Homo sapiens: one gene and its partners. The protein of the gene in region 6 purifies or fractionates together with the protein of the main gene of each other region. This does not show direct contact. Each region holds a gene or a part of one and is shown on either strand. Other genes may lie near its edges. The genes, in order: XPO6, MMS22L, ATP7A, XPO5, DAGLB, NCR3LG1 and PODXL.

Region 1 (3,500 bases), on a different chromosome or scaffold from region 6:
TATGATAAACTAGCAGCTGGAAAGCCTCAGAGAGGTAATGTTTATGGTAACCTTGAGATGTCACATAAGTTTCATTTGCAAGAAAGAAAAGGGCGCTAGAGCAGAGGGAACAGCATCAGCAAAGGCAGACAAGTATTAAAGTGCACTGAGTGTTCTGGGAATGACAAATGGTTTGCTGTGGCTGGAAAACAAGGTGTACTTTGGGAAGTCTTTCATAGATACTCCAAATAAATCACTTTAAGTATTTAATGAACCATCTTCATCCTTACTGAGGGACCTCAAAGTAAGTAAGAAACTTAAAATTCAGGGCCCATGTTACTCTACCATGATGAAAACTTGGTCTCAGACAACAGTGGGAACCCTCTGCTCTGAATGACTGGGGTTCACGTGGCATGATCACATCTGAGCTCTATGAGGCAGCTCAGCAGTACGGAAGATGGACAGAGGGACGCAGAACCTGGAAGAGAGGACCGGTCATGACAGCAACAACCAAAGCAAGAGACAATGACAGCTTGATCAAAGCAGAGGGAATGGAGGGAAAGGTCAGGGTCAGGACACAGATACGTTAGCAGCAGCATCAACAGGTCTGGAAGCAGGGGGGCGCTATAGAAGAGGAAGTTAAAGATGACTCAGGTTCATCATTTGACTAGCTAGAAAATGAGGTCATTAACAGAACCAGGGCAAGACAGAGGAGGCACTAACCTGAGAGGAAGATGATGGATTTGGTTTAACACACATTTAATTTGATGTTGTCAGAACACTGGATATCTACAGCTGGTGAGGGTTTAGTTTTCATTGGTACACGGGTCATAGCTGAAGCCATGGGAGGCTAAACCAAGAGACTAATACCATGGATGCCACGGGAGCCAAGAAGAAAAGTGTTTCAAGAAAAGAAAAGGAGATCAGTGGCTGCCAAAGGCCACACTGAGAGGTCAAATGACCTAAGGATTGAAAATACGCATTAAACTGAACTCAGCACACAGATGTTACACATAATCTTGAAAAGTGGTAAAGACAAAAAGTCTGCTGGCTGGGCGTGGTGGCTTACGCCTGTAATCCTAGCACTTTGGGAGGCTGAGGCCGGAGGATCACTTGAGCCCAGCAGCTCAAGGCCAGCAGGGGCAACATGGTGAAACCTCGTATCTACAAAGAATACAAAATTACCCAGGCATGGTGATGCATACGTATAGTTCCAGCTACTCAGGAGGCTGAGGTGGGAGGATCGCGTGAGCCCCAGGAGATAGAGGCTGCAGTAAGACATGATTGCTCCACTGCACACCAGCCTGGGCGACGGAGTAAGACCCCATCTCAAAAAAAAAAAAAAAAAGTCAGTCAGCAATGGGTTGTAGAATGAATGACAGGGGGAAAGGAGAGGTGGGAGGTTGAAAAAGTAGAGGTAGAGTGGCAACCACACTTTCAGGAATTCCTACCCTTTCAACACAGCCTGTGCTATCACATCTTCCTTGGCTTAGACAGATACATTTGACAATGCAACTACTTAAGATCTTCAACATCCTTCTCGTGCCCAGGGCCAACTACCTTCATGTCAACAGCGCCACAACTGCTCACCTACCTACAGAGATAGCCACATCCCATATTTCATCAGCACATGGCCCATCTCCTGTCATCTCTTCCTATCAGTTTACATGTTATCGCTTCCATTCCTACCAAATCCAAATCACCAACTGATTAAAACTTTCTACTACTCTCAATCGCCAGGTTACAGGCTTCCAAAATCAGCTTGTGCTTTTCCTTCTTCCTCATCTCTTAACTCTGGAATCAGTTTTAAGTGACAACTCCCTTACCAGGTCTTCCTCTCAACCACTAATTACACATGCAAGAACAGGCAGGCCCTTGTCACATCCACACAGGCATGGTGTAACATCTGGTTTCCCACATCTAACCTATACACAGCAGATTAAGTTTCCTTTAAGGAAAAACCATCCAACAAGAGAAAGCCAAACTCCCTAGGGTAGTACTGGAGACCCTCCATCATCTAGCCACAAACTACCTTGATAGCCTTCTCTCCAACTACTTCTTCACATCCTTCTCTTCTGAAACTTCCAAACTTCTGAAACTGCTAGGGAGCCTAGTTTACTCCTTCCCTAAAGCTCCCTTTGAACACCCAAGACCTCAACAACATCCCTACCACAATTTAATTGCCCACTATGCCAAGAATTGCTCTAGACTCTTGGGATACATGAACAAAAGAGAGATTCCCTAGCTTTATGGAGCTAACATTTTAGCAGGAGACAACAAAAGACCAACCTCATTAATAATATTGAGTATATAAAATGTTAAAAAATTGTACAAAAAGAGAAGTAAAGCAGGATGTCAGGGACTGGAAGTGCTGAAGTGGCATTACCATTTTAAACAGGGTGGTGAGGGAAGGCCCCACTGGAAAAGTGACTCGAGGCTTAAAGGTTTAGTCAAGCAGATTCTCAGGGAGAGCACGGTCCAAGCAGAGGCAGGGAGCCAGGCCAAAGGCCTGGAGCAGGAACATGCCCAGAAGGTCTGAAGAGCAGTAAGAAGACCGAGGGAGCTGCAGCACAGCCAGTGAGAGCTAAAGGAGGTGAGCTAGAGGGGAGATGTGACCCGTCTCACAAACCAGCTTGGATGTCAAGCAGACAGCTGGAGACTCGAGAACTGGAGCTGAGGAGAGAGATGTTGGGTTATAGGTGTCCTGGATGAAGGCACTAAGTTCGAGGCCTAGAGTGTTCCGGCTATGAGATGAGGAAGAAACAACCTGTGCGACAGGAGGAAAACCAAGAACACACCTTAGTGTCCCAGCGGCCAAGTGACGAAAGGCTGAACTGCAGAAGGGGTACTCCACTTGTCTGACACTACTGACAGATCCAGTAAGATAGGGACTGAGAGCTAACCACTGGATTTAGCAACACTGGATAAGCAACACTTATCACCTTGATAAGTGAGATTAAGAGAGAATAATGCCAGGCGTGGGGACTCACATCTATAATCCCAGCATTTTGGGAGGCCTAGGCAGGGGGATCCCTTGAGCCCAGGAGTTCAAGGCTGCTGTGAACTATGGTCACTCCACTGCACTCCAGCCTGGGCGACAGAGCGAGATCCTATGTCTAAAATTAATGAGCAAAGGGAAAGTGAGGAATTAGAGACCAAGTACAGGCCACTCCTTCCTGGGGTTTTGTTGCAAAGGGGAAAAAAGAAATAGGGCAATAACTGGCCAGGAAAGTAGGAGTAAAGGTTTCAGATAAAAAAAATACCATGTTTGTGTACTACATGTATATGTGTACATAGGTATGCATATAAAGCCCTAGAAAGTCCTACGCACCCAACAAATGTTTATTTCCTTCACTCTCACTTCACACCTATCATTTTCTATTATCTTTGTTGCTATATATGTGACCTTTGTAACTGTCTGCAAGAAACTTTCACTTGGAAGGCCCTTTCTTTGTCCCAGTGTCAAACTCTTCCTCATCCTTCAAGACTCAAATATACCTTCCTGGGAAGCCTTCCCTGAC
Region 2 (3,500 bases), on a different chromosome or scaffold from region 6:
AAATGCTCTTATTAAAGTCACCAATCACACCCACATTGCCCAATCTAATAGACAGTGCCTACCCTCAAGTAACTTGCTCCCACAGTAGCACTAGCTACACCTGGCTTCATGGTGCCAGATAATGAGTCTTCTTTCTTCCTCATGTATCCTTTGTCCTACCTCTTTTATTGGCTCCTCCTCCTCAATTCTATTATTAATATGGTCTCTTCAAGACTCAGTCCTGAATCCTCTACTCTCTGTATATCTCTTCCCATATGTATGATCTCATCAGTTCCTTTATTAATAAATGATAATGACTCTAAAAGGGTTATCTACAACCCCATCTCTCCTTTGCACTCCAGACCTTCCGTGTTAAACTGCCTAACACCTATACTTGGATTGCTCAGACAGTGCAAATAATACCTCCTTTGATTTCTTTCAAAACCTGTTGATGCTGTCCTTGTTTTCAGCCTTTCATAAAATGGTGCCACCAGTAGCCTATATGGTTCTTGATTCTTGCATTTCCTTTAACCTCGTATCTAATCCTTCAGAGTCCTATTAAGTTAATAACCAAATATACATTGAAACTATCCATTTTCCCTATAAACACTTAAACCACCACAATAGCACTCTTCACAGGTCTTTCCATGCTCTCTTTTGTCCCCCTATACACTAAGTAAAAAATCTGCTTAAAATGTATATCAATTTATCTTGTTCCCAAGTCAAAACTCTTGAAAGAATACCTATTATATTTAGAATAAAATCAAAACTCCTAATAATAATTTATAAAGCTCTGAACGACCTTTTAATAGTTGCTGCCTTTCTCCCAACCTCACTCCATGTCAGCTTTCCCTCACTTACTTCAGCATTTATATCAGCAATAATTATCTAGGTAGTTACTATGGGCAAAACACTAATAATCATTATATAGAGAATGAGTAAGAGACAATCTAGTAAACAAAAGCAAAGAAAACATGATGAGAATTATAGGCTACAAATTTACAGCCATACTAAACATGAAACTAAAGTTTAATTCAAATGAACAATCATGCCACTACTGTGGCAGAATAGAAGCATAAGTGTGAAGCAGTTGTGTAAATACCTCCATATTAAACTGCATTTTTATGGCTTTATTTCACCCATAAAAAGTCATATCATCCCAATTTTCACAATTCTCGGCCCATTAAGGCAGTACTCTCTTAAAAATAACTGCAGTGAACATCTGCATCCAGGCAAGACGGAGTAAAATAATCAGATTGCTCCATCTCCCACTGTAAAGCTGAAAACCATAAAAATTACGTCAAGCAAGTTTTCAGGCTCTGGACACAAGACAATATAAGATTGCTCTCCCAGAGAGAAACTGAGCCCTACAACTGTACCAGCTCCCCACCTAGAGACAGTTTCCAGGCTTCAATATGAGGAAGAGAACCCAAATACAGCCCAACTCACTCTTTGAGATGAGGAGATATGGGATCCAAGTTTAGGGAAGTCCAAATTTGCAGGGCAAAAGTACCCAAGAAGAAAGAAGCTATACAAAATAGAGTTCTGGAAGGGTACAGAAGTGTCCCTCTGAGATTTAAGTATCGATCTGTTCAAGCATGAAAAATATTACCCAACGCCAGGGAAAAACACCAGAAAACAATTCCCTATAAAGAGTACACAAGCCAGGGAATAGTTCAAGTTCTCACCAGCAAGCATGAAAAAAAATCTCATAATAGACTACGCACGAGAAAGAATTCTCAAAGCCTTACTAGACTAATTTACTAGGCTAAGTTAACATTAAAGGCTGCTTTTTAAAAGTCCTACCAAAATTTAAAACAAGCCTCAAGAAGAACCAGTGGATTACAACTACACAATAGCGACCCATAACAAAATTCAACATCTAGTTTAAGGAATAAAAATCCAGAAAGCAACAATGTGAAACCCACAATGTTCATCTAACAATAAAACATTACTATATATTCAAAGAAGCAGAAAAATATATCACAGAATCAGGAGAAAAACTAATCAATACAAATAGTTTCAGAAATGACAGTGATAAAAGAATTATTGGCCGGGCATGGTGGCTCACGCCTGTAATCCCAGCACTTTGGGAGGCTGAGGCAGGCGAATCACGAGGTCAGGAGATCAAGATCATCCTGGCCAACATGATGAAACCCTGTCTCTACTAAAAATACAAAAATTAGCTAGGCATGGTGGCGTGTGCCTGTAATCCCAGCTACTCGGGAGGCTGAGGCAGGAAAATTGCTTGAACCAGGGAGTCAGAGGTTGCAGTAAGCCGAGATGGCGCCACTGCACTCCAGCCTGGTGACAGAGCAAGATGCCCTCTCAAAAAGAAGAATTATTAATAGCAGCAACAACAGTGGTTATAATGTATACTCCATATATTCAAGATGGATGAAAACAAGCATGAAGTCAGAAACAGAAGACATTTTAAAAAATCCATAAGGAATGTCTAGAGAAAAAAAACACACACACAATAGCTGAGACAGGGTAACACCAACAATTATATTTAAGAATAGCTCTTGGCTGAGTGTGGTGGGTGATACCTATAATGCTAGCACTTTAGGAGGCCAAGGCGGGAGGATCACTTGAGCCCAGAAGTTTGAGACCAGTCTTGGCAACATAGTGAGACCTTATCTCTACAAAAAATTAATTTTAGTCAGGCATGATGGCGTGAGCCTGTAGTCTCAGCTACTTGGGAAGCTGAGATGGGAGGATCTGCTTGAGCCCAGGAGGTCAAGGCTGAAGTGAGTCATGATCGCACCACTGCACTCCAGCCTGGGCGATGGAGTGAGACCCTGTCTTGAGACAGAGACAAAGAGACGGAAAGAGAGAAAAAAAACAGCTGTCAGCAAAACATGTCATTAAGTATGTTATTCTGCCTCAACTGGAAATTAACCCTGGAAGCATAATGGCTAGAACAAGAACTATACTCATCTGGCAGTAAGTAACTACATAGGGACTTCTTGGCACAGCTGAGGTCCAAGGGTAGCTACACAAGTTAATGAACACAGCTACATGGCAGGGACATGTTCATGTATGGATAATATTTAACACCACTAACTTGTCCAAAATCTGTCATTAAAAGCTTTTTTAAGCAACAAAAACAGCCAAAATGTCAGTGTAACAAACAACCATCTTAACAAATAGTCCACTGCAGTGGTTTCAGGTTAATAAGTGTAATAATAATAATCTATCATAATAAATGCCTTCCATGAACCCAATTTACTTAAGTTATTCTACGTAAAGGTAAAGGTATTTTGGTTCTTTCCACTATAATCTTTTAGTGGCTCCACAGGAGTTCCAAAATAAAAATCATACTCTCTGTCATGGTTTACAAAGCCAACTCTGCTTTTATCCCTTCCAAATTCATCACTCACACACATTCTGATCCAACCATATGTAATTAATATTTAATCCATGCTCTCTAAACTTTTATGTTTTTACACACATCACGTCTTTGTTTATACAGTTTTATTTTTTTCTGCCTGGAATTCTTCCTGTCCGAAAAACTTTTC
Region 3 (3,500 bases), on a different chromosome or scaffold from region 6:
TCTTTTTGTGCCCAAATGTATGAGATATTGGTAGACTACATCAGTTTTCACAGATACCTCTTTCCTTGAAGGAAATGAGGGTAAAATACCCCATTTTGAGTCAGTTATGTGTACTTTGTACCATATTTTCTGTTCACATTTAAAATTATACAGCTATGTCTCAAGGATGAAAAAAGAGTTTTACTTATTTTTACTATTAATCTCTAGTGTAGAAGTCCAGTTTTTCAGACCTATAATCAGGAGTGCATTTTTAACAATTTACCAGTTGAAATAAATGGGTTATTTCACATTGTAGGGATATTGTTTTAGACTGGCCATTAACCTTATTTTATTTTATTTTTATTTTAAAAGATGTTATTGTTATTATTTATCTATGTATTTATTTCTAGAGGCAGGGCCTCGCTCTGTGGCCCAGGCTAGGGTGCCATGGCACAATCATAGCTCACTGCAGCCTTAATCTCCTGGGCTCAAATGATCCTCTGGCCTCTCAAGTAGCTGGAACCACAGGCGCATGCCACCATGCCTAGCTACTTATTTATTAATTAATTATTATTTTTTAAATAATATTATTTTTAAGAGATGGGGTCTTGCTCTGTCACCCAGGCTGGAGTGCAGTGGCGCCATCATAACTCACTGCAGTCTCGATCTCCCAGGCTCAAGCGATCCTCCTACCTCAGCCTCCTGAGTAGCTGGGACTATAGGTGTGTGCCACCACTCCCAGCTAATTTTTAAACTTTTTGTAGAGACAGCATCGTGCTGTGCAGTGGTGCTATCTCGGCTCACTGCAACCTCCGCCTCCTGGGTTCTAGTGATTCTCTTGCTTCAGTCTCCCAAGTAGCGGGGATTACAGGTGCGCGCCACCACACTTGGTTAGTTTTTGTATTTTTGGTAGAGAAGGGGTTTTGCCATGTTGGTCAGGCTGGTATCGAACTCCTGACTGACCTCAAGTGATCCACCCTCCTCAGCCTCCCAAAGTGCTGGGATTACAGGCATGAGCCACTGTGCCAGGCCTTAAAACACCTAGTGTTAAAAATGGTGTCTTAATTGTATTCTCAGATTCTCCTAGAAAGAAAAGATATACTAAATGTATATTTAGATATACTAAAACACCTAATGTTTATTTTTGTTTATTTATTTTTGAGATGGAGTCTGGCTCTGTCACCTAGGCTGGAGTGAAATGGTCTATGTTTGTTTTTTCATCTTGACAGTAATATCTTTGAACATTTTCTGGAGTATTAGATATTATTCTCTTGATGCTTCAAGGTATCTTAACTTCACCATTGTATTGCGATATATTGTTTTGGAGAGACAGTATAATATAGGATTAAGAGTGGAGGCTAGGTGGGGCACAGTTGCTCACGCCTGTAATCCCAGCACTTTGGGAGGCCGTGGCAGGCGGATTGCTTGAGCCCAGGCGTTCGAGACCAGCCTGGGCAACATAGGGAAACCCTGTCTCTACAAAAAATACAAAAATTAGCTGAGTGTGTTGGCACGTGCCTGTAGTCCCAGCTACTCAGGAGGCTGAGGTGGAAGGATCGCTTGAGCCTGGAAGGTTGAGGCTGCAGTGAGCTGAGATCACACCACTGCACTCCACCCTGGATGAGAGAGTGACAGAGTGAGACCCTGTCTTGTCCGGAAAAAAAAAAAAAGCCTGTCTTGTCTGGCTCAGTCCAGGTGCTAGACTGTCTAGGTGGGATCCCAGCCCCTCTGCTTACTACTTGTATGACCCTGCGCAGATTTCATACTCCTCTGTGCCTCAGTTCCTTCAAATTTCTAAAATGGGGACAATAACAGTACCTGTCTCACAGGATTGTTAATGATCTAATACATGTACGGTGTCTGGCAGATAGTAAACATACAATAAAATGTAGTTACCTTTAATATTTTAATATATTATTTACTGTAAAAGTAATTTTAACATCCTATATAATAAAATTATAAATTACAGTTTTGCTGTACTATAAATTTAGTAGACTACAGGATCAATATACTAATCAATCAATACTTGCAAGCAATATTTAAATTCTTTAAAAAAATTTTTTTTGGAGACAGGGTCTTGCTCCGTAGCCCAGGCTGGAGTTGCAATGGCACGATCTCGGCTCACTGCAACCTCTGCCTCCAGGGTTCAAGCGATTCTCATGCCTCAGCCCCCCGAGTAGATGGGGTTACAGGCGTGTGCCACCACACCCGGCTAATTTATTTATTTTTAGTAGAGATGGGGTTTCGCCATGTTGGCCAGCCTGGTCTCAAACTCCTGGCCTCAGGTGATCTGTCCGCTTCAGCCTCCCAAAGTGCTGGGATTACAGGTTTGAGCTACCGCTCCCGGCCCTGCCACCACGCCCGGCACAATACTTAATTTCTAACTTACACCATAGAAAATTGGCCGGTGCGGTGGCTCACGCCTGTAATCTCAGCACTTTGGGAGGCTGAGGTGGGTAGATTGCTTGAATTCAGGAGTTCCAGACCAGCCTGGGCAACAAGGTGAAACCCCATCTCTACAAAAATTACAAAAAATAGCCAGGTGTGGTGGCATGCGCCTATAGTCCCAGCTACTGGGGAGGCTAAAGTGGGGGAATTGCTTGAGCCTGGGAGGTTGAGGCTGCAATGAGCTGAGATCATGCCACTGCAGTCCAGCCTGGGTGACAGAGTGAGACCCTGTCTCAAAAAAAAAAAAAAAAAGAAAAAAAAAGAGAAAGAAAATGGAAAACTCAGATTGAGAGGGTCCCCCAGTAGCCTATAGTACACCTACATATGCTAACATGGCATCTTAAAGCTCATTATTACAGCTGGCAAATCAAATCACTGTGATGTGCTCATCCTATTTCCCTATCAAGAAAACTCATAACAATCTGCTTCTGTAATTAGTGAGCCACAGACTCTAGGCCATCGAGATTTTCCACATTCCCTAATTGTCAAATGCTGAACCATACTTGTACTGAATAAGTTGTGATACAGTGTAAGCAAGGGAAAAGGCCTTATGTATGTCTAACCTACTCTGCAAATAGCTGCATTCTTACAAAGTTGTGTGTAAATTGAATTTTTACAAAGCATGTCAGCACTTTGATTAGTACATTTTTATTGTGTGCTTATTGCATATTCAGTGTTTCCTGTGAGCTATACAAAGAAGCATAAGGCATATGTTCCAATGTCTAGCAAGAGAAAGAAGTTTAATACCAAGCAGAGAGAAATTAGGTACTACTAAACTATGAAACTGATTCCAGGGTATTCGGAATTTAAAAAGAAAGTGGCTAGGAGTATTTGACATGATTTTTCATGAAGGAGGTGGGACTTCAGTTCATTTACTTACTCAACAGTGATTTATTGAGTAGCCACCATGTTCACTGGTGGTATGATAGTGAACAGAGCAGATATGGTCCTGTTTCTGTGGAGTTTACAGACTAGTGAAGTAATAGAACTTAAATATGTGCAAGAAAACATTCTAGGTGAGGGGACCAGTTCTAAACAAAGTCATAGAAATAAATGATAAGAGCATGGACTAT
Region 4 (3,500 bases), on a different chromosome or scaffold from region 6:
CTGAGATCAGGAGTTCGAGACCAGCCTGGTCAACATGGTGAAACCCTGTCTCTACTAAAAATACAAAAATTAGGCCAGGTGCCGTGGCTCACACCTGTAATCCTAGCACTTTGGGAGGTCAAAGCAGGTGGATCACTTGAGGTCAAAAGTTCGAGACCAGCCTGGCCAACATAGTGAAACCCCATCTCTACTAAAAAATACAAAAATTAGCTGGGTGTGGTGGCACACGCCTGTAATCCCAGATACTCAGGAGGCTGAGGCAGGAGAATTGCTTGAACCCGGGAGGCAGAGGTTGCACTGAGCTGAGATTGCGCCACTGCACTCCAGCCTAGACAACAGAACGAGACTCCATCTCAAAAAATAAATAAATAAATAAATAAATGTGTTGGGCAATAATGCTGATATGACAGCAAAGTAAATTACATTTGTAGATAATATTCCTATGGAGAAAAGAGTCACAGTTCCATTGGTTAGCCAAGACAGACATAGGCTTGGCGCAGTGGCTCACGCCTGTAATCCCAGCACTTTAGGAGGCTGAGGAGGGCAGATCACTTGAGCTCAGGAGTTCGAGAAGAGCCTGGCTAACATGGCAAAACCTCATCTCTACTAAAAAATACAAAAATCAGTCGGGCATGGTGGCGTGTGCCTATAGTCCTAGCTACTCGGGAAGCTGAGGCAGGAGAATCGCTTGAACCCGGAAGGCGGACGTTGCAGTGAGCCAACATCACGCCACTGCACTCCAGCCTGGGTGACAGAGCAAGACTGTTTCAATTAAAAAAAAAAAAAAAAAAAAAAGACAGATATAAACCTACTGTAGCCACCATCCAAGATTCCTTGACATTCATTAAGTGAGCTTTAAACTTAAACATTTACTTTTATCTGTTAACTGTAAATTGCCAAGTATCATGGCTATTTCAAGAACCATGCAGCCTGATAAATCTCCACATTCTGCCAAAGGATCCCTTGAATATTGGCAAACTCCTGTCCAAGGGGGTTGGAAGCAGGCAGTAAGTTGGCCCCAAGGAAAAAAACCCAAACCTTTAAATGACTTTCTGCCACAACATGCAATTAAACACATACACAGCCTACTTCAGAGACTGAGGATAAGTCAGTTTGAAGTGGTAACTTACTTTTCTGCTGACTGCAATGAGAAGACACTCAGCGGCTCCCAACTGAAGTTCCTGTTCATTCAACAGCAAACACAGTATCTCCAGGAGTTTACAGTTTTCAGCAGTGATGTGACTCATAGACACCCAGTCAATATAGCCTGCTAGAGTATTCAGTGCTGCAACTCCTACTCGACAGTTTGCTTGCGCCTACCAGAAAAGAAGTAACTTTGGACCATGAAGTCCTCGGTAACAGGTAAGGAATCAGTGGTTATAACTGAACTCCCATTTTCTAATTCTAAGAAAATTATTTTTTAAGAATATACTCATGTAACAGTCACAGGTAGGGAACACAATCACTTCTCAAACAATGACATTCTCAACATCCAACAACAAGACCATACTGGCATGTGTGGCCATTTTATCTTTTTCACAAAACCCCAAATCTTATCATTTTACTTCCCAAGGCTGGGTGCAGTGGCACACACCTGCAATACCAGCACTTTGGGAGGCCAAGGTGGGTGAATCAACTGAGCCCAGGAGTTAAAACAACAGCCTGGGCAACATGGCAAAACTAGTGTCTACCAAAAAAACAAAAAATAAAATAAAATAAAAAAAATACCCTAACCAAAAAAATACAAAAATTAGCCAGGCATGATGGTGTGCATCTATAGTCCCAGCTACTCATGAGGTTGAGGTAAGGCTCACTTGAAGCCTGGAGGCTGAAGCTGCAGTGAGCCACGTTTGCGTCACTGTACTCTAGCCTGGGTGACAAAGTAAGACCCTGTGTCAAAAAAAAAAAAAAAAAGTAAGTCTGTTTTTGTTTTTTTTTTTTACTTCCCTTCAACCATAGCTCAGTGATCAAAAACAGAACAAAGGACAGGCTGGGCATGGTGGCTCACACCTGTAATCCCAGCACTTTGGGAAGCTGAGGAGGGCGGATGATGAGGTCAGGAGATTGAGACTATCCTGGCTAACATGGTGAAACCCCGTCTCTACTAAAAATACAAAAAATTAGCTGGGTGTGGTGGCGGGCACCTGTAGTCCCAGCTACTCGGGAGGCCAGGCAGGAGAATGGCGTGAACCCAGGAGGCAGAGCTTGCAGTGAGCCGAGATCGCGCCACTGCACTCCAGCCTGGGCAAGTGAGCGAGACTCCGTCTCAAAAACAAAAACAAAAACAAACAAAAAAAACAAACGACAGATGCAGTGGCCCACAGTCACTTCAGGAGGTCGAGGCTGGAGGATCACTTGAAGCCAGGGGTTTGACACCGGCCTAGGCAACACACTGAGACCCTGTTTCTATAGAAAGTATTAGCTGGGCATGGTGGTGCGCACCTATATTCCCAGCTACTCATGAAGTTGAGGTGAGAGGATCACTTGAGCTGGGGAGGTCATGGCTGCAGTGAGCTGAGACCACACAACTGCACTCCAGCCTGGGCAACAGTAAGACCTGTCTCCAAAACAATACAACACAAGCAAGGCTGAGGTCACCATCCACTAGGGGCACGTATCCCCTCACCTGAAAGGTTCAAAGGTCTCCTTCAAACTTTATAAAGAGCTCTTACCTTTGACTCCTGAGAAGTATCTGTCTTCTGAAAGGAAGTATAAAGATCCAGTGTTTTTAATGAGCAAAAGGCCACATAATAACTTTCTACCCCCCACAAATCAATGCCCTTGAATAATGATTCTTAAATATATGCAATTTTTCATCTTGGAAAATAACACAACTTTACTAAGCACGCATAACTGATATTCCCCTAGGGAGAACAAGTAAAGTCAGAAGCATAATTAAATGAATACAATTCATGAACATGTATGTATAGCCTAAGTATATGAAAACCATGTACTCAAAAATACTGGATGTTGGCCAGGCGTGGTGGCTCACGCCTGTAATCCCAGCAGTCTGGGAGGCCAAGGCAGGTGGATCACCTGAGGTCAGGAGTTTGAGACCAGTCTGGCCAACATGGTGAAACCCCATCTCTACTAAAATTACAAAAATTAGCCGGTGTGCTGGCGCATGCCTGTAATCCCAGCTACTTGGGAAGCTGAGGCAGAAGAATCACTCGAACCCGGGAGGCAGAGGTTGCAGTGAACCAAGATTGCACTACTGCACTCCAGCCTGGGCAACAAAAGTGAAACTCCGTCTCAAAAAAAAAAAAACAACAAAAAAAAATACATATATATATGATGTTAAATACATCAGAATAGTGGCTATTCAGTGAATATACAAATATGGTTGATTTTTATCCTTATATTTCAAATCCATACAAAGGCACATAATGTTAACTTACAAGCATACAAAATTAGGCCAGGCGCGGTGGCTCACGCCTACCATCCCAGCACTTTGGAAGACCAAGGCAGGCGGATTATTTGAGGTCAGGAGTTCAAGACCA
Region 5 (3,500 bases), on a different chromosome or scaffold from region 6:
AAAGCTATTTCCTGGTAGGGTGCTGTGGCTCATGCCTGTAATCCCAGCACTTTGCGAGGCAAAGGCGGGCAGATCACTTGAGGTCAGGAGTTCAAGACCAGCCTGGCCAACATGGTGAAACCCAGTCTCTACTAAAAATACAAAAATTAGCCAGGTGTAATGCCTCTAATCCCAGCTACTAGGGAGGCTGAGGCAGGAGAATCACTTGAACCTGGGAGGCGGAGGTTGTGGTAAGCTGAGATCACACTACTGCACTCCAGCCTGGGCGACAGAGTGAGACTCCATCTAAAAAAACAAAAACAAAAATTAACCAAAAAACGCCCACAAAAAAACAACTGTCTATGGGACTATGAGGCCTATTTCAGCGTGGTGGTGTGCACCTGTAGTCCTAGCTACCAGAGAGGCTGAGGTGGGTGGATCACTTGAGCCTGAGAGGTGGAGGCTGCAGTGAGTCATGATTGTGCCACCACACTCCAGCCTGGGCAAGAGAGTGAGACCTTGTCTCCAAAAAGAATGGTAGCTATTACGCTCTCTGAGCTTCAGTTTGCTTGCTCATACGTAAAATGAGATAATGACTAACCCAGTCATTGTGGGGATTACAGAACTACGCACATAAAGTGTTTTAGGTTGGTGTCTAGAACAATGTAGGTCTCAAAGGGACGTGGAGCTTGTTTTCATGGCTGTTAGAACTTGGGTGACCATATATCCCTGTTTGCCTGGGACAGTTCTGTTTTGTGCCTGTTGTCTCAGCATAATTATTACTATTATTATTATTATTATTATTATTATTATTATTATTTTGAGACGGAGTCTTGCTCTGTCACCCAGACTAGAGTGCAGTGGCGCAATCTCAGCTCACTGCAACCTCCGCCTCCTGGGTTCAAGCGATTCTCCTGTCTCAGCCTCCCTCGCAAGTAGCTAGGATTACAGACGCCCGCCACCACGCCTCGCTAATTTTTTAATTTTTAGTAGAGATGAGGTTTCACCATGTTGGCCAGGCTGGTCTCGAACTCCTGACCTCAGGTGATCTACCTGCCTTGGCCTCCTCCCAAAGTGCTGGGAGTACAGGTGTGAGTCACCGTGCCCGGCCCCAGCATAATTATTAATAGTCCCCTTTTTTCCTCTCAGAAGTATACCAGTTTGGGCCATGATTATATTGTCACCCCAGTGAGAACCCAGAAGTGTTTTTAATCCCTGCTAAATCTTAAAAAAGAGCCCAGGACTTCTTGTCACGTTTCCCATCCTCATTTTCTCACTTGCTGTCTGACTTAGGTGCTGATTACCAATTATAAGTAGAAAAAGTCAGGAGGCGGGTGTGCACAGTACAAATGTATGCTCTGCAAAAGCTGTATTTTTGCAAAAAGGAAGCTCTTCATCTCTGAGGAAGCAACTGAGCAGTCGGAACGTTTTTTGTATTTCAGGAACGATTTGTAACCCTGGACCGCGGAAGTCTATGTCTAAGCTGCTTTACATCCGCCTGGCGCTGTTTTTTCCAGAGATGGTCTGGGCCTCTCTGGGGGCTGCCTGGGTGGCAGATGGTGTTCAGTGCGACAGGACAGTTGTAAACGGCATCATCGCAACCGTCGTGGTCAGGTGACATCTCCCTTCTTCTCTTTGAGTTTCAGTGGATTTGAGGCATAGGTGAACAAACCCTTCTAACATGACAGAGAGTCCAGCGTCCCTCGGACTTCCTCAAATAGTTAGAAATTGGAGTTAGTTTCTGCGTAACTCATGAAAATTTAGAGACACTGTTTGTCCATGAAATACAACTCGTCTTTCGTTATGCACGTATTGATGTAGATTTCTTTCCTTACTGGTTCTTTATTTTCTACATTCCCTTCTGTCTCTCTCTCTTTTTTTTTTTTCTTTTTTTCTTAAAGTCTTTTATTCCTAACCCTTCTCTTATAAGAATTCGGAAGAAAACCAAAGACCAAAACCAGAGCAAAAACTAAAACTAAAGGTATGAAAAGAGATACGGTGTCCAGAAGTGGGACAGGGAATAATATTCTAGAACAATAAGGTTTTCGTGTTTTCTAGGCTAAAAATCTTAGAGATGATCCAGTCCCGCCCCCTTAACACCCTCTGTTCTAAATAAGGAATCAGACCTGGGCTGTTGCTGCGTTTCTCGAGTCACACCGCCAGGGGGCAGCAGAGCCCCTTCGGGAGGGGCATTTCCCGGTTGCGTGTGCTCCTCAATCCGGCGTCTTGCAGTGTGAAATATTTAAACATATAGATGAGAGGCCTATCAGAGTACTCTGTGATACCTTCATGAGAAGAGCCCTGAGGCACCGAAGGGGAAGGGCGTATGTCATGGTCCCAGGGCCATATGGAGAAGAAGTGCCCGCTGCATCCGGGCGCAGGCTGCAACTCTGCCCAGCGGACACCTCCCTGTTCCTTCTGTGGCCTTTACTGTTAGGGCAGGGCCTGGGTTAACCACTGATTCATAAGGAACTTTTTTTTTTTTTTCTTTGAGACGGAGTCTCCCTCTGTCGCCCGGCTGGAGTGCAGTGGCGCCTCCTCGGCTCACTGCAATCTCCGACTCTCTGGTTCAAGCGATTCTCCTGCCTCAGCCTCCTCAGAAGCTGGGACTACAGGCACGTGCCACCACACCCAGCTAATTTTTGTGTTTTTAGTAGAGACGGGGTTTCACTATGTTGGCCAGGCTGGTCTCGATCTCCTGACCTCGTGATCTGCCGGCCTCGGCCTCCCAAAGTGCTGGGATTACAGGTGTGAGCCACCATGCCCAGCCTCATAAGGAACTTTCTAGAAGAAAGTTGCTTGCCTCAGGCAGGTTCCAGGAGAGCTGCATCTTCCTCGGTAACAGAACCCTCCGTGGTAGAGACTCAGAAACTGAACCTGGAGGAGGGACCCCGGACATCTGCGTCTGGGCTGGGGCCCGCAGTCACCGAGCCTTTTCCTCTCTCTGTCTTGCAGTTGGATCATCATCGCTGCCACAGTGGTTTCCATTATCATTGTCTTTGACCCTCTTGGGGGGAAAATGGCTCCATATTCCTCTGCCGGCCCCAGCCACCTGGATAGTCATGATTCAAGCCAGTTACTTAATGGCCTCAAGACAGCAGCTACAAGCGTGTGGGAAACCAGAATCAAGCTCTTGTGCTGTTGCATTGGGAAAGACGACCATACTCGGGTTGCTTTTTCGAGTACGGCAGAGCTTTTCTCAACCTACTTTTCAGTAAGCCGAGGGGATCTGGTTTGGTCTGTTTCTTCTGTTTCAGTAAATGCTTCTGATGGAGCCGGTCCCTCTGTTCCCATAAAACCGCGTTTGAGAACCTGGTGTCTTTGGGTGTGTGGGGGGTGGCCGGAGACCCTCTGTCTGTGATGAGCCCTCCAGGGAGCAGTTAACTGCAAGAGCCACACCTTCTCAGACCCTGTGTCCCAATAGGACATGTCTTCGTATTGACACCCACTCACTACCCTGTCAAAATGCTGGATTAGCCTGTAAGGAACCACATAACGGACGCTGTACCCTTTGAGAATAA
Region 6 (3,500 bases):
CCTCAAGTGTTTTGGGACCTTGGGGCCTTCTTACTGCTGACTTAGCTCTTTGGTCTGCTAGCCTGTTTCCTTTCGCTATTTCATCTACCCGCTTCTGATGCCCTCTGCAATGTCTGACCACTAATTCTCATGGGAGGAACACTGAGGATAATAGCCTGTTGATGTCTTGATGGTATTTAATGCAAGACCCATTAGCGGTGAGGAAGTGCCTTTCCTTTCAGATGGCAGCATGGGCAAGGAGAACTAGAAAGGTACACTTGGAGTCAGTATAAATGTTAGCTGTCTTTCCTTTGCTTAGTTCAAGTGCTCTTGTGAGAGGGATCAGCTCAACTGATTGAGTGTGTGTGCCTGGTGAGAGAGGCACATTTTCAATGTTATTTAGGGTGACTACTGCATATCCCACTTTTCAGACTCCCTGTCCTACAAAAGAGCTCCCATCCATAAAGTGGGTCCAGTCTGGATTTTCTAGGGGAATTTCTTTGAGATCCTCCCTAGCGGCATAGGTTGTACTACAGTCTGTTCACAATTATGTTCAGTTTCTCCAGTTTCCTCTGGGAGGAAAGTGTCTGGGATCAGGCAAGGTCAGGTTTTTAACTGGACTGCAGATTCCTCTAGCAGCAAAGTCTGATACTTGAGGAGGCAGCTGTCTGTTAGCCAGAGACTCGCTTTAGAGGACAGCAAGCCTGCCACATTATTTATGTGAGGCATAAACAGGTTATTCCCCAGGGTTAACTTGGTGGCCTCTGGGACTAGCAGGGCCACTACTGTAACTGCTCAGAGGCAAGCTGGCCATCCTTTAGCCTCCAAGTCAAGCTCTCTACTTAAGTAACCTACTGGCTGTTGAGCTGGGCCTTGAACTTGAATTAAAACTCCCAGGGTCATTCCTTTCCTTTATGATACATAAAGATTAAAGGACTTCCCTACAGAAAGACTGGGGGCTGGTGCTTTAAGCAAGGCTTGTTTTAACTGATTAATGGCCTTTTGACCTTCAGGTTCCCAGGTCAGGAAGTGAGTTTTAGCCACTTGAATTTCTTTTATAAGGTGATATAAAGGGCAACCTATTTTATCATACCTGGGTATCTATAACCTACAAAAACCTGTAATGCCCAAGCATCCCTCAGCTGCTTGAGGGTTCTGGGGAGAGGAAGGGAGGAAATGGGATTAATCCTCTCCTCGCCTAGTGCTCTTGTTCCCTTCTGACAAGACCAGACCTAGGTACTTTACCAAAGTCTGATAGAGCTGAGCCTTAGATTTTGAAGCCTTATATCCCTTTCCAGCTAGGAAATTAAGGAGAGCCTCAGTGCCGTCTCAAGAAACTTCCTCAGTTGGGGCACAGAGGAGAATGTCATCTACATATTGTAAAACTTTAACCTGAGAATGGAAGAATTCGAAGAGATCTCTTGACAATACTTGCCCAAATAGGTGGGGGCTATCTCTAAATCCCTGAGGCAGTACAGTCCAGGTTAACTGGGTGGTTTGATTGGAGGGGTCTTCAAAGGTAAACAAGTATTGGGAGTCAGGGTATAAAGGTATACAGAAAAAGGCATCCTTTAGGCCCAGAACTGTGAACCATTTAGTTCCCTTGGATATTTGAGTTAGCAAAGTATAGGGACTGGGATCTACTGGATGAATCGTAATCACAGCCTCATGAATAAGGCAGAGGTCCTGAACTAGTCTCCCTTCCCCATTGGATTTTTGCACCCCTAATATTGGGGTGTTTCAAGGGCTACTGCAAGGCCTAAGGAGGCCTTGTGCCTTTAGGTTATCAATGCTGGCGTCTAGCCCTTTTCTACTTTCTGGCTTCAGAGGGTATTGTCTCTGGTTAGGAAAAAAAGTGGGATCCTTGAGGTGGATCCAGACTGGTATAGTGGTTATAGTCCGGCCACTTCTTCCCTGAGTTGCCCAAACCTCTGGGTTAATACTGGTTTCCACTAAGGGGAGGCGGAGTTTGTCCTGGAGCCATAAGGATGGTGGCCCCCATACGTGCTGGAATATCTCTATCTAATAAAGGAGTGGGACTTTCAGGCATGACTAAAAAGGCCTGTGTAAACAGTAGGTCCCTCTGACTGCAACTAATAGGTTGAGAAAAATATCAAGTTAAAGTCTTTCCTGAGATGCCCATCATGGTTGTGCTATGGGAGGAACGAAGGCCTGAATTGGAGAGGAAAACAGAAGCCTGGCTCCAGTGTCCAGAAAGAAGTCTACCTTCCTCCCTTCGAACTCCAGAATCACCTGGTGCTCCCGGGTAGTAACAGCAGTCTGAGCCACTGGAGCCAGGGAGTTGAGCCCCAGGACCCATCAGTCCTGCTGGACCATTTGTGAGACTGGCTCTGGACTCAGTGACCTATGCTTCCCAGGACAGTCTGCCTTCCAGTGGTCCCCATTGTATACTGGACAGGGTTGAGGTGGCTTCTTCTTGCTGCCTGGGCAGTCCCTTTTGAAGTGCCCTAGTTTGCCACATTGGTAGCAACTAGCAGGTGTACCTTGGGGATACTGGGTTTTATACAAAGTGGCCACCAGAGTCTCTGCCTTTTTCTTGTGTTTCCTCTCCTTCCCCTGGGCCTCCTCCTGGTCCCTATTATAAAAGACCGAGGTGGCTACCTTCAGGAGGTTTTGTAAGGTGCTATCTAATCCCATGGCCTGTTTCTCTAGCTTCCTTCTGATATCAGGGGCTGTCTGAGTAATAAACTTGTCTTTCAAAATTAGCTGTCCCTCAATTGAATTATTTATGTGAGGTATAAACATACCTAACAGGAGACAAGGAAGTGTGTTTCACTACAGCCTCTCTCAGCCTTTCCAAAAAGGCTGAGGGATTTTCATCTAGTTTTTGATCTATCATGGAGAGTTTGGGGTAATTAAGAGGCTTGGCTCTGGTCCTCTGTAGGCCCTCTAATAAGCACATTTGAAAATGTTTTCTTTGCCACTCATCTAAGGTACCACTGGGGTCCGAATTATGTTGTTCAAGGGGCACTGCCTCGCTTCCTATTGGGTATGTGAATGCTGGTTGTTTCTCACCTTCTTTCCTTATTGAGTGGCTATAGAAGACATGTTGTTCATCTCTGAATTTTTCTGCTGCCTGCAGGGCTACCTGTTTCTCTGTAGTAGTTAAGAGTTTAAGAGCAACATAACATCACCCCAAGTAAGGTCAAACACCTGAGTTAGGTTTTGGAAAGCCTCTATATATCTATCAGGTCATCAGAGAACTTGCCCAGGTCCCCTCTTATTTGCCCAAGGTCCTGTAATGAAAAGGGAACTTGGACCCTAGTGGCACCAGGTCCATCAGGCATTTACTGTAGGGGTAACAGTAAAGTTGGGGGTTGGGAGGATAGAACTGGAGTTGTTGATGTTGTGGCTGGAGGAGGTTCCCAGATAGGGGAGACAGGAAGGATTGGGGCATCCGGAACTGCATCCGAGTGTTCCCTAGGGGTTTGTTTCTCAGACTTTGTGGAATTATCATCTATGGACTTGCCTGATGTAACTGTTAGGAGAGCAGGGTCAAT
Region 7 (3,500 bases), on a different chromosome or scaffold from region 6:
CTAGAGGCTGTGGAAATGACAGGGGGTCCTCAGCCAGTGGGCCAGTGGCAAACACCGACATATTTAGGCACAATGCATGGTGGCCAGTGCTATGGCACAGTATTCCAGGCACCCTTAGGAGTCTAACTCTTAAATAGCAACATGGCCCCAAGCCTCAATTTACCCTTATGGTAGAGGGGTAGGGAAAGAGATGTGGGCACAGTATAGGTTTGTCACCATCCTAAAGTCCTTTTTAAAGAGGTTTTTCGCCAGGCATGATGGCTCATGCCTGTAATCCTAGCACTGGGAGGCTGAGGTGGGCAGATCACTCAAGGTTAGGCGTTCAAGACCAGCCTGGCCAACATGGTGAGACCCTATTTCTACAGAAATTAGCTGGGTGTGGTGGCGCATGCCTGTAGTCCCAGCTACTCAGGAGGCTGAGGCAGGAGGATGTCTTGAATCTGGGAGGCAGAGGTTGCAGCAAGCCACCTGCACTCCACCCTTGGCAACACAGCGAGATTCCATCTCAGAACAAAAAGAAGTAAAATAAAAAAATATATAAAGGGGATTTGGTGAGTTTTTCCAATTCCCAGGAGGGAATCAGCACTGAAAGGGCTGAGTTCTATTCTGGTATTTACAGCTGACACGTATGCGCACATGCACACACATACATGCACGCACACACACACACACGCACACACACGTGTGCACACCCACCTCCTGGAAAGCTATTTATTGAGAGTCACTGGGAACTTGGGCGAATGAACCCACCTCCCTGGCCTGCAATCCCCCATTTGAAACAAGCAGGTTGTAGTAGATGATTTCCAGAAGGCTCCCCAGCTCTAGAATTCTGTGTCCTATGATTTTCTGGCTCATTTAGAAGTGGTGTGGAAAGTACCCTTTGCCAACCGAATTCCACATTGCACAGCCTGCAGGCTGCCGACTCGAAGCAGTCATATGGCAAATGTTACTGCAAATATGAAGAGGCTCCTTTAAGGGATCCTCTGTGTCAATTTTCTTGAAGGCTTTTCTTATAGAGAATGCCCCCGTCATTTGGCCTGTGCAGGGTAGGAGTCACCATCCCAGATCTGCTACATCACTTGATTTCTTAACAGCCCCATAGAGCAGACAGGATACATGATAAAGAGAGGCCCATCCAACTTAGCCCATGTTCCTGGGTCCGGGACAGGAAACCCCACCAGCTGAGCTCCCTGCCCTGCTTCATGGCCAGTGGGTGCAAATAGGAAATGAGCCCAGAGCTGGGTAAAGAGCTCCTGGCTGAGGTCCAGTGAAAGTGTCCAGGCAGGCTCAGGCTGGTGGGTAGGGATGGGCAGGGCAATGCCATTCTCTTTCTCTGATTATGTAGGAATGACTTCCATTTCAGCTAGAGCAAAGCTTGCATTCAGCAGCCCTGAAGAGGGCCTCTGCCTCAAAGGGTGTGAAGAAGCAGCACTTCCTGGAATAGGGGTCATCTACGTCCCCTCCTGAGAAGTCCAGTGAACTGGAGACACGATTCCTCCCACTTCCCTTAAGAGTGAAGGGCTCTGAGCTGGGTGCGGTGGCTCATGCCTGTGATCCCAGCACTTTGGGAGGCTGAGGCGGGCGGATCATGAGGTCAGGAGATCGAGACCTTCCTGGCTAACATGGTGAATCCCCGTCCCTACTAAAAAATACAGAAAATTAGCCGGGCGTGGAGGTGGGCGCCTGTAGTCCTAGCTATTCGGGAGGCTGAGGCAGGAGAATGGCGTGAACCCGGGAGGTGGAGCTTGTAGTGAGCTGAGATCACGCCACTGCAGTCCAGCCTGGGTGACAGAACGAGACTCCATCTCAAAAAAAAAAAAAACAGTGAAGGGCTCTGAGCTAAGTGCTGAGCCAGCTCCACAGCAGCCACCAGCATCACAGGGGTCACCAGCCCCACAGAAGCCTTAACCTTCAGCAGTTGCTCCCACCAGCTCTAGCTGCTGGAGAACAAGCCCACTGGCCAGACATCCCTTCCCAGGATGCAAACTCCCCTTCCAGGGAGCCTAAAGCCAGGGCTGAAGCCGGTTCCCCTCAGTTCTACAGTCCAGAGTATCCCAAGCGACCGCTCAGCGCTGGGTGCTGGGCTGGGCCCTGGAGGTGGTGATAAGTATGTTGTTGGCCCCTCGAGGGCCTCACCGCATGGTGGAGGAGACACACAGATCATGGAACACACTTTGGTTCTCCCTAGGAAACCAGGGAAGGCATCTCAGAGATGATGCCTGAGGGTGGCTAGGAGTGGCTCTTCCCCTCCCTCCCTGCAAGGGGGGGAATTCTAACCACAGGGAGTCTAGTCCCCTTCCCCTCTCAGCTTTCCACAGGGCAGTGGTGTTAAAACCCCAGGCAGCACCCTCCTCTCCTTTCAAACATGGGTTCCTGAGGAAAACCAGATGGGGGACAGCCTCCATGCCTCTTCCCCCACCTTCTCTAGGCCTGGGGGACACCCTGAGGACCCTCCTGGGCAGGCCACGCTCCCCTCCTCAGCCCTTCTCTGGACGACCACACTCCAAAGCTCTGGCCACACTGACACCAGGTGCTTTTGGGTCTGCCCTTGAATGGCTGGGCTCCTAACCCCGCCATGTCCAGCTCGCTCCTGCCTCAGATCCTGTCCCAAGCTGCACCATGCTGGGAACACCCACATTCCCCCACCCCAGCCCTGGGCACCTTGTTTTTTTCCTTGAGTCAGGGTCTCCCTCTGTTGCCCAGGCTGGAGAGCAGTGGCGTGATCTTGGCTCACTGCAACCTCTGTCTCCCACGTTCAAGCAATTCTCCTACCTCAGTCTCCTGAGTAGCTGGGACTACAGGCGTGTGCCACTACCATGCCCAGCTAATTTTTTTGTCTTTTTAGTACAGTCTTACTAGGTTGCCCAGGCTGGTCTTGAACTCCTAGGCTCAAGTGATCCTCCCACCTTGGCCTCTCAAATTTGCTGGGATTCCAGGCGTGAGCAGCCACACCCTGCCACCGTGGAATTTTCTCTCCAGTTCTGAGAGCTAATCTCCCCAAAGCCTCAATGACTCCATCTCAAGAACCACCATCACAGACTCCCCGACCCTAATCTGCATCTCCCCTACACACTACAATTCATAGAGCCTCAGCCACATTAGGAAACACTGACCCTTTTAATTTTAAAATCCCTATGTGAAAACCCCACCTCCTTCAGGAAGCTTTCTCCAGACCTCCAGACCACCCCTTCCAAATCTTATACTCTTTTCCATATGCCTCCCTCTCCCACAGAGTGGCACTGGGGCTTCAGTTTTTATTATCATATATCCACTGATACCCACAAACATTGGCAGGATCCCAATGCCTGGGGTCCCTTAAACCCACCAGGTGCTCAATATATATGCTTACTAATCATCATAGCTATTTTTTGAGTGTTGATCCTGAGTTGGGCGTAAAGCCAAGCCCATGATATATATACTCGCTCATCTTCATAGCAACCCACAAGGTAGGGCTGTTATTACTTTATAGATGAAGAAACTGAGGTTCAGGGAGGTCCACT

Evidence for each region.
Region 1: the proteins of NCR3LG1 (region 6) and XPO6 purify together in Homo sapiens (affinity purification with mass spectrometry; 2 studies listed by BioGRID and IntAct, with this or other methods). This does not show direct contact.
Region 2: the proteins of NCR3LG1 (region 6) and MMS22L purify together in Homo sapiens (affinity purification with mass spectrometry; 2 studies listed by BioGRID and IntAct, with this or other methods). This does not show direct contact.
Region 3: the proteins of NCR3LG1 (region 6) and ATP7A purify together in Homo sapiens (affinity purification with mass spectrometry; 2 studies listed by BioGRID and IntAct, with this or other methods). This does not show direct contact.
Region 4: the proteins of NCR3LG1 (region 6) and XPO5 purify together in Homo sapiens (affinity purification with mass spectrometry; 2 studies listed by BioGRID and IntAct, with this or other methods). This does not show direct contact.
Region 5: the proteins of NCR3LG1 (region 6) and DAGLB purify together in Homo sapiens (affinity purification with mass spectrometry; 2 studies listed by BioGRID and IntAct, with this or other methods). This does not show direct contact.
Region 7: the proteins of NCR3LG1 (region 6) and PODXL purify together in Homo sapiens (affinity purification with mass spectrometry; 2 studies listed by BioGRID and IntAct, with this or other methods). This does not show direct contact.

What each region holds. Positions count from the first base shown.
Region 1 is NC_000016.10:28,201,966-28,205,465, forward strand, and holds part of XPO6 (exportin-6), read right to left. Parts: intron 1-3,500. UniProt on the Homo sapiens protein: Mediates the nuclear export of actin and profilin-actin complexes in somatic cells.
Region 2 is NC_000006.12:97,273,217-97,276,716, forward strand, and holds part of MMS22L (protein MMS22-like), read right to left. Parts: intron 1-3,500. UniProt on the Homo sapiens protein: Component of the MMS22L-TONSL complex, a complex that promotes homologous recombination-mediated repair of double-strand breaks (DSBs) at stalled or collapsed replication forks.
Region 3 is NC_000023.11:77,913,693-77,917,192, forward strand, and holds part of ATP7A (copper-transporting ATPase 1), read left to right. Parts: intron 1-3,500. UniProt on the Homo sapiens protein: ATP-driven copper (Cu(+)) ion pump that plays an important role in intracellular copper ion homeostasis.
Region 4 is NC_000006.12:43,566,039-43,569,538, forward strand, and holds part of XPO5 (exportin-5), read right to left. Parts: intron 2,700-3,500; coding exon 2,673-2,699; intron 1,317-2,672; coding exon 1,131-1,316; intron 1-1,130. UniProt on the Homo sapiens protein: Mediates the nuclear export of proteins bearing a double-stranded RNA binding domain (dsRBD) and double-stranded RNAs (cargos). XPO5 in the nucleus binds cooperatively to the RNA and to the GTPase Ran in its active GTP-bound form.
Region 5 is NC_000007.14:6,434,455-6,437,954, reverse strand, and holds part of DAGLB (diacylglycerol lipase-beta), read left to right. Parts: intron 1-1,421; coding exon 1,422-1,593; intron 1,594-2,934; coding exon 2,935-3,193; intron 3,194-3,500.
Region 6 is NC_000011.10:17,372,300-17,375,799, reverse strand, and holds part of NCR3LG1 (natural cytotoxicity triggering receptor 3 ligand 1 precursor), read right to left. Parts: coding exon 3,288-3,500; 3' UTR 1-3,287. UniProt on the Homo sapiens protein: Triggers NCR3-dependent natural killer cell activation.
Region 7 is NC_000007.14:131,550,129-131,553,628, forward strand, and holds part of PODXL (podocalyxin isoform 1 precursor), read right to left. Parts: intron 1-3,500. UniProt on the Homo sapiens protein: Involved in the regulation of both adhesion and cell morphology and cancer progression. Functions as an anti-adhesive molecule that maintains an open filtration pathway between neighboring foot processes in the podocyte by charge repulsion.